Linked DNA regions of Homo sapiens: region 2 is linked to region 1. The links come from fine-mapping of genetic effects on gene expression. A gene starts in region 1. The other region holds a variant in brackets. All regions are shown on one strand. Distances are between the middles of the regions. Region 1 holds the start of TM6SF2 (transmembrane 6 superfamily member 2). Region 2 overlaps MAU2 (MAU2 sister chromatid cohesion factor).

Region 1 (5,367 bases):
CTCCTGTTATCTGTTTTGCCTTCCACAGAACAATCCCAGACGGCCTTACTACTGAGTGTTCTGGAAATACATACTTTCTGAATGACCAACCGTCCCTGGACTGTGGAATGTTCCGGCCTGCATTTCTGCCCACCCCTTCCGTTGTCACGAGTGCCGTGCCGTGTAATAAAGTCCCAGTGCTCATCCACCACAGATGCCTGGTCCTGTTGCAGGAAGCCCCTCCTGTTAGCAGCGGGATGCAAGATGCTGTCTCGGGGCTCTCCTTATTGGCCTGTGGAGTCTCCATCCCCGCTCAGCCTGGGTTGCACTGGAGGGGAGGAAGAAAGTTGTTTTCAGCATAGTAAAGCTGGAAGGCCAGGTGCAGTGTCTCACCCCTGTCATCCCAGCACTTTGAGAGGCCAAGGCGGGCGGATCACTGGAGGTCAGGAGTTTAAGACCAGCCTGGCCAACATGGTGAAATCCTGTCTCTACTAAAAATATAAAATTAGCTGGGCATGGTGGTGCACACCTGTCGTCTCAGCTACTCGGGAGGCAGAGGCAGGAGAATGGCTTGAACCTGGGAAGCGGTTGCAGTGAGCCAAGATTGCGCCTTTGCACTCCAGCCTGGGCAAGAGAGCAAGACTCTGTCTCAAATAATAATAATAATAATAAAGCTGGAGACTTGGCCACACCTGGGCTAAAGGAATGTCAGGAACCTCCGAGCCTAGCACTGTGCTGCAGAGGGAGGTTGGGGAGGGGTCTCCAGGCAGGGCCCCACCTTCCCTCAGACCTGTGGGGGCAGGTGGCTTCTGGGCACACCCATGTGCTCTCCTGGCAGGTGGTGCTGGCACGGCCCAGCACACAGGTGTTGGCTGTGGCCCTTCAGGTCCCACCAGTGTGGTAGGCACACGAGTCCCTGGGGCTTGTGTCGTTAGGGGACAGCCGCATGGATGCATGGATGTGCCATGCCAACATGTCAGGCAGCTCCTAGAAGGAAGGGCCTCAGAGCCGGAGGTTTTGAGGCAGGAGGGTAGCCCAGGCCACAGTGTGTGCCAAGACCCCCACATCTGCCCCAGGGCCAGAGCCCCACATTTGTGCCTAAGTCACCCTGGGGATCTTGTTAAGCTGCAGCTGCCGAGTCAGCTGGTTGGGCAGGGCCCTGGGAATTTGCATTTCCATCTGCCCCCACCCCCTCCACACACACCCAGTGGGTGCTGCCCAGCCCCTGCAGGCACCAGGGGCTCCCTATTCACATGCTTGGCATGGAGTCGGGCTCCTGGGCCAGCTTGTGTTCACACAGCCATTCAGCAAACACTAGGTGCCAAGTGTGGGGACCAGGTGGACAAGATCTACTCCAGTCAGCCAGGCTGCTGGGGATGAGGTCTGAGGCTGCTACTGAGAGGAACCAGGGAGCCGTGGTGGGGCGGTCTGCAGAGTGTCTCAGTGGGGTCTGAGACCAGGGAGGTGCCAGATGCAGTGGCAGAGCCAAGGCTGGGGTGATATACCACCCTTTGTTCTTTCCTGACGCTGTGGCTGAGGCAGAGCAAAGAGTAACATTGGTGGGCTTGGCCTGGGTGCCCATGAATGAGGGCTGCCCAGAAGGCAGTGGGCCAGGACCCTGAGCACAGCGGGGTAGTTCTCTGCAGCCAGTGGTTCAGGGAATCCTGGCACTGGGTCCCAGGCATTCAGCCATCCAAGTCACTTCTCAGTTCTCAGCAACCTGGAGGCTCACCAGGCTCAGGGCATGGACTTTACCCCTTGCCAGGGGACGAGGCCTCCAAGTGCTGTGTGCGTGTGCAGGTGCATCCTGTACACGGGACAAGGCCAAGCCCCTAGGCTGAGCTGGGCACAGGCACCCTGGCCTTGTGTGGAGAAGGTGGGGTGGGGGTGGCAGGCAGGGCTGCCTGGAGGAGGGGATGCTGGGGCCCGCTTACAAGAAGGCTCATTTTACAGACAGAAAGCAGGCCTGGGGGGTGTTGACCCTGCTAGAGTTGGGGAAAGTCCAGGGGAACCTGAACTTCACCCATGGGCAGTGGACACCTGGGGAAGGAGGCTGAGTCAGACCTGCGGCCAGAAGACCCTCTTGTGGCCCAGTTCAGGAAGACCTGTGACCCAGTTGGCATCAAGCTAAGGGGCTGCGTGCAGAATGGGGCCTGAGGTAGGGGCAGTGGTTAGAATTTGTGCCAGCTGCAGACTGGGGTCCCGCAGGGCAGGCGTCAGGTGGGCATGGTTCACCTTGCTGTCTGCAGCATCCACAAGTACTCCACATGGGCCAGAGTCTGGTTGGAGGGGGTGACAAAGACAGATGGTCTCCTTATTCTCCCCCCCAATACTGTGGCCCCCTCCCAGCTGTTCAAAACCTCCCACAGCCTCTCACAGCTGTCTCGCTTCTCATCACACCCCAGCAGAACCGACCTCCTTTCCACTGCTCAGTTCCAAGCCTGAGCCACTTTCCTCCCTGCCAGGAACACCGTTCCCAAACTCTTCACCAAACTGGCTCCATCCCGATATTCTAACTTCAGCCCCCACCCGCTAGGACCCCTTCTACCCTCTCCCCGAAATGAAGAACCCTAAACCCGGGACTAGCCTGCAAAGGGACAGCCCCGGAGTCAAAGCCTCACACTTAAAGACCCCTCGCAGTGGCTCACGCCTGTAATCCCAGCTCCTCGGGAGGCTGATGTGGGAGGATCTGTTGAGCCCAGGAGTTTGAAACCAGTCTGGGCAAAAAAGTGAGACCTCTGTCTTTACAAAAAATAACTAGCTGCGCGTGGTGGTGCATACCTGTAGTCCCAACTACTTGGGAGGCTGAGGTAGGAGGATCTCTTGAGGCTGGGAGTTCAAGGAGGAGGGCCACTGCACTCCAGTCTGGGCCACAGAGTGAGACCTCTCAAAAAACAAACAAAAAAACTTCACACCTGCCTGGAAACACGTTTACATTTGTGGCCACCTTATGAAAACTCAAATCTAAGCCCACTGAAAGGCATTTTGCACCCAAGAGCTGGAGGTTGCTCCATCCGTGCGCACAGGGAATGCCGACTTGATCTTTGGGTGGGGATGGGAAACTCTGGGGAATGCAGAGGTTTAGAAGCGCAGAGTCCAGGAGAAAATTTCCTTAGAACGAAGTTGTGGAGGCAGGGGAAAGAGGGGGCACGCCAGGACCTCCAGGGCGCACCCCTTGGCCTAAGAGCAGAAGCATCCCGAGGTGTTGTGTCCCAGCCTTTGACAGTGAGGGAAACTGAGGCTGAGTAGCGGGACGGCCATTGGAGACGAGGGTGTCGATGGTGAGGGGCGAAGGGGCGGGGCAGCTGCCAGGGGGAGGGCCGGGGAGGGGCCTTGGAGGCTCCCTGGGAACACGCAGGGCGGTCACGGCGGCCTGCCCAGGGCGCAGCGGGGTCGACCTTTGTGCGGGGCGGGTCCCTGGCAGCCTCGGCCCGGACTCGCCGCCAACGAGGAGCCGAGCGCCCTGGAGAACGCGTCGGGGCTGAGCCGGGGTCCAGCAGCCGCCGCTATGGACATCCCGCCGCTGGCCGGCAAGATCGCGGCGCTGTCGCTGAGCGCCCTCCCGGTGTCCTACGCGCTCAACCACGTCTCGGCGCTCTCGCAGTGCGTGCGGAGAGGGGCCAGGGCGGCCTTGGGGACAGTGGGGGCGGGCGGGGGCGGGGAGGACTGGAGGTGGGCTGGAGGGAGGATGCGCGGTCCGCGGACCTGGCTTCTGCGAGCCCTGCGCCCCAGCTCAGCTCCGACCCGGCAGGATTGGGGTGGGCCAGAAGAACACCCCCCTCTAACCGGAAGTCCCCTTCCCGCCGGGCTGGAGGCTGGGATGCGGCCGCTCCTGGGATGTTTGTGGCCTGGGAAGAAGGAATGATGAGTCCCCACAAGCCAGAGCTTTGGAGGGTTTCTGGGGTTTTCCCAGGGATGCGCCCTGCCTAGGTTCCAAAGTCACCAAGGGTAAAAGTATTGTCCCAGATAAGGCCCCGGGTACCTGACTCCTGCTCACACACACACACACACACACACACACACACACACACCCTACTCCATTGCCTGTCTCAGGCCTGTGACTTTCCTCTTGTTCAGGGCTGGCTAACCATGTCCCTAGACTCAGTTCCCCCTACTGGTTCCCTTTCCTGGTCCCTGTCTCCTAACCCTAGATCCTAGCCCTGTGGGTCCAGCCACCGGATAGTGGGCATCTGCAAGCCCCTCGTACTTCTAAACCCAGCTCAACCCAAGCCATGGGGTGGAGAGAGTCTTAACCATGAGCCTGGCTCCCTGGGTGGGAATACCCATCTCCATCTCCTGGGATCCTGGGTGAGCCAAGTTCCTCTGGGAGCCTCAGTTCCCTCATCAGTGTAATGGGCACGATCCTAGATCTCATCTCATAGTTACGGTTAAGGATTATAAACTGTGTACAAAGATTTGTCTTGGTCTCATCTGAGTACTATAATGTCATTGTTAGATGGGGTCAGGATGGAAATCTTGGGTTCTGAGGGGATCATGAGAAAATAGGGGCCTGGAGAGTGATGGACAGAGTCTTGAGTGTGACCCTGGACAACTGGACAGTACTCCCATCCTCTCTGGGCCTGGATTTGCCCACCTGGGTTGAGGGCTGCCCAGAGACCTGGCTTCTGTTATCTATGCAACTGGTTGACCTGTCTTATCAGGTTGTGGGTGCAGATCAGGGCAGGGGTAGGGTGGAGTTAATAGAGGCATTTGGACTTTAGCTGGGAGGAGCTGGGAGCGTCAGACAATGAAGTCTACAGAACTGAGCACTCGAGACCCTGTGGCTTGGGAGCTGGGCCTGGCCACAGAGGGGCTTGACGTTGTCGAATGACTGAACAGACTGAGTCAAACACATAACAAATGATGGGATAAATGGTAAAGTCAGAAGGGGCAGGCCAGGCGTGGTGGCTCATGCCTGTAATCCTAGCACTTTGGGAGGCCGAGGTGGGCAAATCACCTGAGGTCAGGAGTTCGAGACCAGCCTGGCCAACATGGTGAAACCCCGTCTCTACTAAAAATACAAAAATTAGCCGGGTGTGGTGGTGGGCACCTGTAATCCCAGCTACTTGGGAGGCTGAGGCAGGATAATCGCCTGAACCCAGAAGGCAGAGGTTGCAGTGAGCCAAGATTGCACCACTGCACTCCAGCCTGGGTGTCAGTGCTCTGTCTCAAAAAGAAAGAGAGAGAGAGAGAGAAAGAAAGAAAAAGAAAAAAAGAAAGAAAGAGAAAAGAAAAGAGAAAAAGAAACAGGCTGATGAATATCCCCTCTGTAGCTAGCCCGAGTTAAACAGTGATCCTTTCTGGGGAGTCAGGGAGCGCTTCATGGAGGAAGAACAATGTGGATGGGCCATGAAGGATGAGTAGGAGTTTGCCAAGTGGAAAAGACTT
Region 2 (5,367 bases), 55 kb before region 1:
CCCTGACTCTTACAAAAAAAAGCCCCATGATGTTTGACTTTAAAGTTGTGGCTGCAATGCCTGCAGCAAGCTGACATCCAGTAGGTGCTCGGGAAACATCTGCTGATCGAACGATGGCTTTATCCACTTGGATAATGAGTAGAGTTCATTAGAGGAAAGTGAGGGCTTCTGTGTAAGTGCAAATGGCCACAGAACGGAGGCGTATGCCTTTCAGACACAAAGCCCTAAATGGCATGGGATTTCTCCCTGTCTTTAAATGCCACTGCTTCTTCACTGGGACATCAGTGACACCTGGATCTCTCTGCATGAGGACACACATTCCTGAAGGGCAGTATGGGCCTGGTGTCAGGGTGAGCCAGTCAATTCCCCAGGGCCATCAATCTGACACCTACTAAATGACTTCACTTTTGTATCTTTGTTAGAGTTTTGTTTTTCTTTTTTTTTTGTAGAGACAGGGAAGGTCTTGCTATGCTGCACAGGCTGGTCTTGAACTCCTGGGCTCAGGTGATCGTCCCATTTCAGCCTTCCAAAGTACTGGGATTGCAGTTGTGAGCCACCTCACCCAGCCCTCTGTATGACTTGTAGCATATATTTGGAAATCAGAAAAATATATCCATCTCACAAATAAAGGATGTAGAATGCCTTACCCAAGGTTGCTACCTCATCTACGTGATTTTTTTTTTTTTGAGACGGAGTTGCACTCTGTCGCCCAGGCTGGAGTGCAGTGGCGCGATCTCAGCTCACTGCAAGCTCCACCTCCCAGGTTCACGCCATTCTCCTGCCTCAGCCTCCTGAGTAGCTGGGACTACAGGCGCCCGCCACCACGCCTGGCTAATTTTTCTTTGTATTTTCAGTAGAAATCGGGTTTCACCATGTTAGCCAGGACGGTCTCGGTCTCCTGACCTTGTTATCTGCCTGCCTCGGCCTCCCAAAGTGCTGGGATTACAGGTGTGAGCCACCGTGCCCGGGTGTTTTTTTTTTTTAACTTTGTAATGCTAAAAAGTAGCTTTTATGTTTCCTTCCTTATGATAGCAAAGCAGCCAAAGTGAGAGGCTGCAGGGAGCAGGGCAAGGAGGTGACTGTCTCCATCAGCAGCCCCTGGGGTCACCTTAGGGTTCTCAGGGAAAGCAAGAGAGGGTTGCAACAGGGCCAACAGGTTTCAAGTGGGGTGGAAGGGTCCAGACCAGCACAGCTCTGGTGCCTGGAGGATTCAGTCCAGGGCTGAGTGTTTCAAGGCTTCTTATTCCTTAAAACCAAAGTAACTTTTAAAAAAAAGGCTTTTTTTGATTGTAGTTTTTAGACATGGTATCCCTCTGCCACCCAGGGGGAGTGCAGTGGTCCTCACTGTAACCTCAAACTCCTGGGCTCAAGAGATCCTCCTGGCTCGGTCTCCCAAGTAGCTGGGACTACAGGTGCATCTCACCAGGTCCTACTAATTTTGTTTTTTGAGATGAATTTTCGCTCTTGCTGCCCAGGCTGGAGTGCAATGGTGTGATCTTGGCTCATGGCACCCTCCGGCTCCCGGGTTCAAGCGATTCTCCTGCCTCAGCCTCCCGAGTAGCTGGGATTACAGGCATGCGCCATCACGCCTGGCTAATTTTGTATTTTCAGTAGAGACGGGGTTTCTCTATGTTGGTCAGGCAGGTCTCGAACTCCTGACCTCAGGTGATGCACCCGCCTTGGCCTCCCAAAGTGCTGGGATTACAGGCGTGAGCCATGGCGCCTGGCAGGCCCAACTAATTGTTTTACTTTTTTGTAGAGATGGGGGTCTCGCTATCTTGCCCAGGCTGGTCTCAAACTCCTGGGCTCAGGAGATACTACCACCTCAGCCTCCCAAAGTGCCGGGATTACAGGCGTGAGCCACCATGCCTGGCCTGTTGTTGTTTTGTTTTTATAAGAGACAGGGTTGGCTGGGAGCAATGGCTCACGCCTGTAATCCTGGCACTTTGGGAGGCCAAGACAGGTGGACTGCTTGAGCTCAGGAGTTTGAGACCAACCTGGGCAACATGGCAAAACCCCATCTCTACAAAATATACAAAAATTAGCTGGGCATGGTGGTGTGTGCCTGTCACATCAGCTACTCTGGAAGCTGAGGCAAAAGAACCACATGAGCCCAGGAGGCAGAAGTGGCAGGGAGCTAAGATTGCGCCACTGCACTCCAGCCTGGGTGACAGAGTGAGACTTTATCTCAAAAAAATAAAAAATAAATAAATAAATAAATAAATAAATAATTAAAAAGACAGGGTTTTTGTCACCCAGGCCGGAATGCAGTGGTGCAATCATGGCTCACTGTAACCTTGAATTCTCAGGCTCAAGCACTCCTCCTACTTCAGCCTCCCAAGTAGCTGGGACTATAGGCATGTGTGGCTAATTTTTCAATTTTTTTTTTTTTTTAAGAGACAGGGTCTGGCTATGTTGCCCAGGCTGGTCTCAAACTCCTCCCGCCTTAGCCTCCCAAAGTGCTAGGATAACAGGCATGAGCCACCATGCCTGGCTCAAAATCATTTTTTTTTTAAACTACCCTATTGCTTGCAACACCTCTGGGATGGAAGCACAGCATTTAGCAGCTTCCCTGGCCTCTTGCTGCTGTGTGACTGTGGCTAAGCACATTCTCCTGCAGTGGCTGGGTGTCATCACAGGTGAGTCTGAGGTGGGCCTTACCCTGTTAATTTGTTGAGGATCCAGGGAGACCTTGCTCTGTGAAGCACCAATGCAGGGCCTGGCATGTAGTAGGTGCCAATGATGCTATAGTAACTGGCAATCAGGAAGTAGAAGAACCGGGGTGGGAGAGGAAGGGACCAGCTGGTAGAACCGTGAGGTGATGGTTCCTAAACAGATTTCACATCCTGAAGTCAGAGGTGACTCAAGAGTGAGAGGGAAGGAAATAGAAACAAAAACAGGAGGAAGCACAGATCACTTCATGAAACTGC[G/A]TAACGGCCAGCTCTGCACAAGTCTCTGCTCCCTGCAGATGGGACACGGAATTTAGCAGGACACAGTTGTGATCCTGAAGAATGAAAGAACTGCTTACGCTGGGCCTGATGAGGAGAGGCTCAGAACCTAGCCCTGTTGGGTCTTAAGAGAAAAGGAAGCATTTAATCACTTGCTGAGAAAGTGAACCATAGATGCTCAGGCTAAACCTGGATGCAGAATTAAGTATCTGACCAGCACAGTCTGGAGCTGCTTTCTAAGTCAGATGAGCAAAACCACCATTAAAAAGCAGCCCTGTTCCAACCACAGAGAAAGCACGCATGGCATTGACACAGAGAAAGCAAGCATGGCATACGCAGTCAGAAAACACCACTGTTCAAAGAATGACTGCCTGGATTATAGAAAATAGTAAGTTCTTCCAGAGAGGCGGCATTTAGTCCTGGGTGGCTTTCAAACCAGGAAAACCTAAGAATGATGGTGCACTTCCCAGGCCAAGGGATAAAAGGGACTGTGATCAGAAGTAAGAAAGTTAAAGGGGTGGCTGGGCGCGGTGGCTCACGCCTGTAATCCCAGCACTTTGGGAGGCTGAGGCGGGCGGATTACGAGGTCAGGAGATCGAAACCATCCTGGCTAACATGGTGAAACCCCGTCTCTACTAAAATTACAAAAAATTAGCCGGGCATGGTGGTGGGCGCCTGCAGTCCCAGCTACTTGGGAGGCTGAGGCAGGAGAATGGCATGAACCCGGGAGACGGAGCTTGCAGGGAGCCGAGATCACGCCACTGCACTCCAACCTGGGCAACAGAGTGAGACTCTGTCTCAAAAAAAAAAAAAAAAGTTAAGGGGGAAACGGATATGCAGGTACATTCTCTTGATTCAACAGCAGATGTCCAAATGACCAAGATGGATCTGTCTGCTTAAAAGACAGGTGGGAAAATAAGAAAAAAGCCATAGGGCCTGGAAGAGAGGAGAAGAATGAAAACTTACAGGGATGGGTGTACAGCAAGAAGAGAGAGAACAAGAGGAAAGCAAAATATAGAAGAACACAACCTGTCAGAATCTGCAGAAATGGCATTGCAAAATTTTTTTTTTTTTTTTTTTGAGACAGGGTCTCTCTCTGTCACCCAGATTGGACTGCAGTGGCAGGAACACGGCTCACTGATGCCTCGACCTCCTGGGCTCAAGTGATCCTCACGCCTCAGCTTCCCAAGTAGCTAGGACTACAGATGTGAGCCACCACGGGCCCGCTAATTTTCAAATTTTTTGTAGAGACAGGGTAGTGCCCAGGTTGGTCACTGCGAATTCTCTAGCCAAGAAATGTCTAAGTAAAGTGACAATGCTTATAGTCATCAACTATTTACTTAGGGGAGTCCCAGAGCAGCCAAAACACACCCACATCACTGCCAAAACCATACTCAGAGAAGGAAGGCTTTCAGGTAAAGTGTCCTGCCATGCACTGTAACAGCTCCAGAATCTGCTGAGCAGACCCAGGGAACAAGGCGGCCGGCAGGTGTTCTGAGGCCCTACAGAGGCAAGAGTCACCGAGACACCAACTACTGTGACCCCAAAAAAGCTGCTGAGGAGTTCGAGACCAGTGTGGCCAACATAGTGAAACCCCATCTCTAATAAAAGTAGAGGCCGGGCGCAGTGGCTCACGCCTGTAATCCCAGCACTTTGGCAGGTCGAGGCGGGTGGATCATGAGGTCAGGAGATCAAGACCATCCTGGCTAACACGGTGAAACCCCGTCTCTACTAAAAATATAAAAAATTAGCCGGGCGTGGTGGCAGGCGCCTGTAGTTCCAGCTACTCAGGAGGCTGAGGCAGGAGAATGGCATGAACCCAGGAGGCGGAGCTTGCAGTGAGCCGAGATCGCGCCATTGCACTCCAGCCTGGGCGACAGAGCGAGACTCTGTCTCAAAATAAATAAATAAATAAATAAATAAATAAATAAATAAATACAAGTAGAAAAAATTAGCCTGGCATGGTGGCAGGCACCTGTAATCCCAGCTGCTTGGGAGGCTGAGGCAGGAGAATAGTCTGAACCTGAGAGGCAGAGGTTTTAATGAGCTGAGATTGCGCCACTGCACTCCAGCCTGGGCAACAGAGTGAGAGTCCATCTAAAAAAAAAAAAAAAAAAAGCTCCTGGGGAGGCTGTGTGTGGTGGCTCACACCTGTAATCCCAGCACTTTGAGAGGCCAAGGCAGGTGATTGCTTGAGGCCCGGAGTTTAAGACCAGCCTGGGCAACACAGTTAGACCCTAGCTCTATAGAAAATATAAAAATAAATACAATCAAATTTTTAAAAAGTTGCTGAGGAAAGGAAGACATACCCTCTTTGACTCTGATGGGGATTCTTTTTTTAAAGTTTTGAGACAGGGTCTCGGTCTGTTGTCCAGGGTGGAGTGCAGTGGCACGATCACAGCTCACTGTAGCCTCAACT

What was found. PIP is the estimated chance that this variant, and not a neighbour inherited with it, causes the effect.
Region 2: its variant is fine-mapped to the expression of TM6SF2 in cerebellum (GTEx, PIP 0.91).

Annotation. Positions count from the first base shown.
Region 1 is chr19:19,271,336-19,276,702 of GRCh38, reverse strand. It overlaps TM6SF2 (transmembrane 6 superfamily member 2), which reads left to right and starts at 3,402. Exons shown (of 10, transcript NM_001001524.3): 1 at 3,402-3,582. The coding sequence starts at 3,488. SUGP1 (SURP and G-patch domain containing 1) reads left to right here. Exons shown (of 14, transcript NM_172231.4): 14 at 29-670. The coding sequence ends at 55.
Region 2 is chr19:19,326,821-19,332,187 of GRCh38, reverse strand. The region is part of intron 1 of MAU2 (MAU2 sister chromatid cohesion factor); the gene reads right to left. Among named protein-coding and RNA genes, the nearest start is that of MAU2, 8.7 kb to the right of the region's middle. The variant G/A (reference allele first, on the strand shown) is at 2,931.